Regions from separate parts of the Homo sapiens genome. Here region 1 is linked to region 2. A link means that fine-mapping ties the variant in region 2 to the expression of a gene that starts in the linked region. Tissue or cell type: whole blood. Region 2 holds a variant in brackets; the other region holds the start of a gene. All regions are shown on one strand. Distances are from middle to middle.

Evidence for each region.
Region 1: it holds the start of RFFL, and the variant in region 2 is fine-mapped to the expression of RFFL in whole blood (INTERVAL, PIP above 0.99).

The regions. Positions count from the first base shown.
Region 1 is chr17:35,062,195-35,065,110 of GRCh38, reverse strand. It overlaps RFFL (ring finger and FYVE like domain containing E3 ubiquitin protein ligase), which reads left to right and starts at 1,404. Exons shown (of 7, transcript NM_001017368.2): 1 at 1,404-1,535. The region is part of intron 5 of RAD51L3-RFFL (RAD51L3-RFFL readthrough); the gene reads left to right. RefSeq lists enhancers at 1,223-1,322, 772-1,567, 654-1,853 and a silencer at 1,563-1,632.
Region 2 is chr17:35,013,399-35,016,314 of GRCh38, reverse strand. RFFL (ring finger and FYVE like domain containing E3 ubiquitin protein ligase) reads left to right here. Exons shown (of 7, transcript NM_001017368.2): 6 at 1,552-1,575. All of the region lies in intron 6 of RAD51L3-RFFL (RAD51L3-RFFL readthrough), which reads left to right. Among named protein-coding and RNA genes, the nearest start is that of LIG3, 34 kb to the right of the region's middle. The variant A/G (reference allele first, on the strand shown) is at 1,500.

The sequences.
Region 1 (2,916 bases), 49 kb before region 2:
AGAGATAATGGTTGTCAGCTGCTATAAAGATGTGTTTATCATTCAGAAAGGACTAATTAACATGTACTATAGGGAAACTTCTTTAAACAAAGCCATTTTCTGAAAGGAAAACACTGAAGGGGAGGAAATAAAACAGGGAACATTTTATAATACCTTATCAAAGCTCAGCGTGGCTATCCTACTGGAATAATGTAATTAAGGAGAATTAAGTGAGTTGGATAAATAACTTTTTAAAACTAGCCCCTTGAATAGAAAATTAAGTAGTATAGTTTTTAAACTCAAATTCTGTCTGCACGTACATTTTAATTAACCTAACATTATTGAATGACAAGCTGAGTTGGCAGCTACATCCAGAGTTCATGCCATGTGAGACCTACCTTAAAGGATGAACGAAGCTGGGTGCAGAGGCCTCAAATGCCCTGCTAAGAAATAGCTGATGGCCTTGGGGAACTGTCATACATTTTAAGCAGGAAACAGAAGGATCTAATAGGAACTTTAGTTTCTCTCTTGTCAAATTAAAGCACACAAAAAGCAAGGACTTGATCTTTTTTTTTTTTTTTTGTATAACACCAATGTCAATTCTAGCCTGTCAGGGCAAATTCAGTAATTAATAGCTGTTGATGAGCCAGTCATTCTAGATTGATTTTTTAAATAAGCAGGCTAATAAATGAGAATTGACATAAATTTAGGGATGTCTCTTTTCAGAGCAAGTGTTAAGGTGATTTTCATAGTCTTCTGTATTCCCTATGCATCCAGTAGGTGTGATGGTAAATGATTTGGCTTTAGCATAGAGAATGTGGCAGCTGATTAAAAAAAAAAAATTCCAGTGCATCTATCTTAATGAGAGAACTTGAGTTGTCTGAAGAAATAGAGAGGTCAGAGGAGGCCTAGTGGGAAAAAAGAACAATGAGCCTGGTTAGAACTGACAAAAATTCACCCTAATGATTTGACTGGCTAATGATGACTGGGCAAGTTCCCTGAGTCCACTGACCCAGATGTTCTAATTTGTAAATGCAAAGTGACTTATTTATCAGCCTCCTGGGGAAATCTTCAGAGCTGTGAACCTGCTATGTTCAGTAATCTTGCTGGCCCCAGCCCCAGCCTGTTCTCAGATGAAATTTTAGAAACTGGCCACTGGAACTTTTTGGGTAAGGGCTCTGGAGGTGGCCAAGTTACCAGTAGTGGGGGAATGAGGTTTACCTGCCCCCAGTAATCAGCACTTGATTTAAAACAATCAGTGAGCTGCCTCTTCTTTCCTAGGTTGCAGTTGACTGCGGTTGGTTCAGGCTGAGTTGTTTGGGAAGTACAAATTTTGCCCAGCGTGAGTCAGCACTGCCCTGGGTAAACTCCCTGCTGTGTTGCAATCTTGCTTACCAAAGATACATCCCCAGGCGGCACCATTCACTTCACATGAAAGCCGCTGCTCTTGGTTCCTGAGATGATCTCATCTGAACATGGCTCCAGCGACCTCAGCCACAGGAACTAGAGACAGCTTGCTTTCTGTCGTGGCAATGTTTTGAAACTGGCAAAATCAGGTAACCTCAAACTGTTTTCTTAAGTTTCATTAGCTAGATGAAGCTGCATTAGAAACTGGGAAAATCCTGTCTTCAGAAGTGAGTCAGGTTTTTTTTTTTTTTTTTTTTTTTTTTTTTTTTGAGACGGAGTTTCACTCTTGTTGCCCAAGCTGGAGTGCAATGGTGTGATCTCGGCTCACTGCAACCTTCACCTCCCGGGTTCAAGTGATTCTCCTGCCTCAGCCTCCCAAGTAGCTGGGATTATAGATGTGCGCCACCATGCCCGGCTAATTTTGTATTTTTAGTAGAGACAGGGTTTTGCTGTGTTGGTCAGTCTGGTTTCGAACTCCCAAGCTCAGGTGATCCACCCTCCTCAGCCTCCCAAAGTGCTGGAATTATAGGCATGAGCCACGGCCCCCGGCCAGAAGTTTTCTTTCATTTGAGTTCTGGATGTGGAGTTAGGTCCAATTAAATCACTGATTATATAAATCTTAGAAAAGTAAAACGTTAGGTTTACAGCTTTATCCGTCATTTGCTCTTGTATTTTGTTTTTTTGTGTGTATCTTGTGAGAAACACTTTAGTCAAACTAAGCCATTGTTAAAGGAAAAGAAGTGAAGGCATTTGGTTGCCTTCCTAATAACTAAATATTGAGTTGTGGAGAACACTGTCTTATCAGTGAGTTTGTTCCCATATTCCTTTCTGAATTAATAGGAAGAACCTCCCTCATCTCTAATTCTACTAGGCTACTACTCTATCTCCCTCCTGCTTTTCATCGCCAAACTTTTGAGTCCTTCACCTAATCAGACTATGATATCTCTAGGTAGTCGTCACCCTCCAAATTACGTTTCTGCTCCTTATAATTCCAACAAATTGCCCACGTTCTCTTTCACCTCAGACCTTAGCATATGTAAGCGTTCTTTTACACACCTTCCCCAAGCTTAATCTGGCCAACTGGTTTCAGCCTAGAAGTCACCTCTTCCATGAAGCCTCTTCTTACTTACCAGGGTTGAGTACTCAGGAGAACCTGGTATTTACTCCAATCATAGTATGTATTGAGAATCAGGGTCTGCTTTGCTAGAATTGTATCCATGGTACGTTGCACATAGTAGGTTCTCAGTAAGGGTAGAATGAGCAAGAGCCTGTACTGTACTTTCTCAACTCTGATCCTCTCATCAACTCTTTTTTTTTTCTTCTGAGAGGAATCTTGCTCTGTCACCCAGGCTGCAGTGCAGTGGTGTGATCTTAGCTCACTGCAACCTCTGCCTTCCTGGTTCAAGCGATTCTCCTGCCTTAGCCTCCTGAGTTGCTGGGACTACAGGTACGTGCCACCACGCCCAGCTAATTTTTGTATTTTTAGTAGAGACAGTGTTTCACCATGTTGGCGAGGATGGTCTCGATCTC
Region 2 (2,916 bases):
CCAAAGCATGATGGTATTGACCTGACTCAATTTCCACACTTAAGCCATGGAAGGAGACACCTTACATATTTGCACCGTCTAATAATAGCTGTCATTTGTGGTTGAGTGTCAAAACTAGATTAGGCATTGCATGTATGTATTTATTCCTTAGAGCAACCTATGAAATAGACATTATTAGCATCACCCCTTTATCTGAAAGGTAAAATTTAACTGAAAATTTTATGGTCTAAGTCCATAGCCTTTCTCACCATATGCTATCCCCTCCCTACTCACCACCACCTTGTAAGTTTTCTTACCTTAGAATAAGAATGCTTGTTCTGAAGATTTGGGAGGTAGAAAGTGAATCTACATACATGGCAGGAGAAGATAGCTGTTCCATCTGCACTTGGGCTCTTCCTTTTGTTCATTTCCCAGAGCATTTTACACTGTATCATTCAGGAGATGCCCAGGAAAATATCTGGGTCTGTGGTTAAATGAGTTTAGGGAAAAATACCTCATATCTTCATTACTGATTTATGGTAGATTTTTATATTAAAGGCAGAGAAGTCCTGCAGAAGAGAAATGTGTTTTGGCTGTTTTGAACTTAGCATTTCCTGAAATTATTTCACCACAGAATCTTCTCCTTTCCTCCCATCCCCAGTTGATTTGGTTCCTACAGAGCAACATACTGATTCCTTGCTTGGTAAGAGTGGTTGAAGTCAGGTTTCAGGCTCTCTTCTACCAGTAGCTCAAATTCATCAGTGTTAGGGGTCATCTGACTGACTCTTCACCCGATTACAGACTGAGGCCTACTGACATGGAGTCTGTTTTCCCTTTGGGATTGTTTCAAGAGTCTTCTCTCCAGTCGTCAGGACCTGGGGAACAGAACAGATGACTCCACGTGGGAACTTTATCCAGATTCTCTGACTGACTGAAACAGCTAGATAGTTCATTCTTTCTTGACTTTAATGCTGACTTCAAAATAGAAAAGGATATTGCACATATACAGTATCCTTCTACTTGGCAGTTTGTGCAAACTGGTGGAATACCTTTTCCTAAGAGTAGACCAGGCTGGGTGTGTTGGCTTATGCCTGTAATCCCAGCACTCTGGGAGGCTGAGGCAGGTGGATCACTTGAGATCAGGAGTTCAAGACCAGCATAGGCAACATGGTGAAACACCATCTCCACCAAAAACAAAAAATTAGCCGGGAGTGGTGGCATGTGCCTGTAGTCCCCAGGTACTCAGGAGGCCGAGGCAGGAGAATCGCTTGAACCCATGAGAAAGAGGTTGCAGTGAGCCAAGATCATGCCACTGCACTCCAGCCTGGGCAAGAGAGTGAGGCTCCATCTCAAAAAAATAAAAAATAAAAGTAGACCAGATGCACGAGTAGGAGCTTTGTGTGAGTTCTGAGCATGTAGAGCGAGTAGAGGGCAGATGTCCATCTAGGCTCTTGGCAAGCCTGGTTCCCAGCAGGGAGTGGTAAGAGTTCAGAAATGATGTCAGGGCAGTAAGAGACTGT[A/G]TTTGTACCATCATGCCTTACCTATTCAGACATCCTTCTCTTTCCTTTTCAGTCAGTGGTGCCGAAGACCAAAACGGTATGTAGTTGTTTCTGTTTGGGAATGGGCTTAGGCCCTTTTGTCCTTCCCCTCCTTCAACCCCAATCCCTTTAGTAATCTAAGAATTCTGAGCATTTGAGCCCCCAGAGAGAGGGTGTGTGGGAAACTCACTGAGACCCAGGGGGCCTCTCACCATCTTTAGAAATTCTCTCTGCTCGCTGTGCAGGAAGCAGAGTGGAGCATACGTAGGGGCGGACTGACTGATGTGCATGTCCCTGGGCTACCTGAGCTCATAAGCCAACATTTGTAAAACACTGAAACAGAGGAGGGGTGGCATGTATCACACTCAGCTCATTTTTTAAAATCTTGGTGTTTTCAGTTCTGGTCTGGGTAGGGAGGGTCTCTGTGTACACCTTCTGGGGAATCAGGGTGTTTAGCAGCTTCTGGTACTAACCAAAAAGAAAGGGTGGTGACCTGAGACAGCCCTGTTTGTACAGGGCTGGTAATGGTTAGAGCTACTCTGGAGCTAACACATGTGCTACTCTCTGGGCACAAGCTATATATCTCAGCTCAGCTGCCACTCACTTAAAGACCACCACTGGGCCCTCAGGTACTCCCAGAACACACTGCAGAACTCCTGACCATCTGTGGGGACATTCTAAAATATGCTATGTGTTTTCAAAAGCCTCAAGGGTATATGGTTGTGAACTCCCTTCCAAGAGAGAACGTTCTAAGAGTAGTGTTGGACTAGCCTGCAGCATTTTAAAACTTATTTCAGAAGATTTCCCAAATTTATTTAGTAAAATGGCCTTTTGCTCAGAATGGGCAATTTTATGTCTGATTACTTCTAATCAGACATAAAAAACAGTTGAGCTTTTCTCAATTCCCCAAAACCATTTGGAGTTCTAGACCCACCTCCACCCTCCAACCCCCCAGCATCACCGGTACCAAGATCAGGCTGATCTACTTGGTGCTTCCTTTCTTTTTCTGATTCCCTGGGAGAATGCTGACAACTGAGTTAATGTGTTTGTTGTTACTTCTGAGAGAATGAGTAACTGAAAATTATAAATTATTCCCATTCATCTTAGGTATTTGTATAGTCTCCAAACCTCTGTTAGGACCAACAGCACCTCAAAAGAGGCAAATGGGTTTCACTCCCTTTCACACCCAGCCTACCTCCTAGGGGGAAGTATTTCTTGACTTTTTAATAGTCCAGAAAAGAGAAAGTATAGATGCAATAAGGGAGAATTCCTCTATGGGTTGGCCAACCCCCAGATGGTAGAGGTGACTTCTGTGAGATCAGTTCCTTTTTATGGGTACCTACTTCAGGCTACAATTTAAGACATATTGGAGATGGCTGGGCTTTTGAACATTATTTTT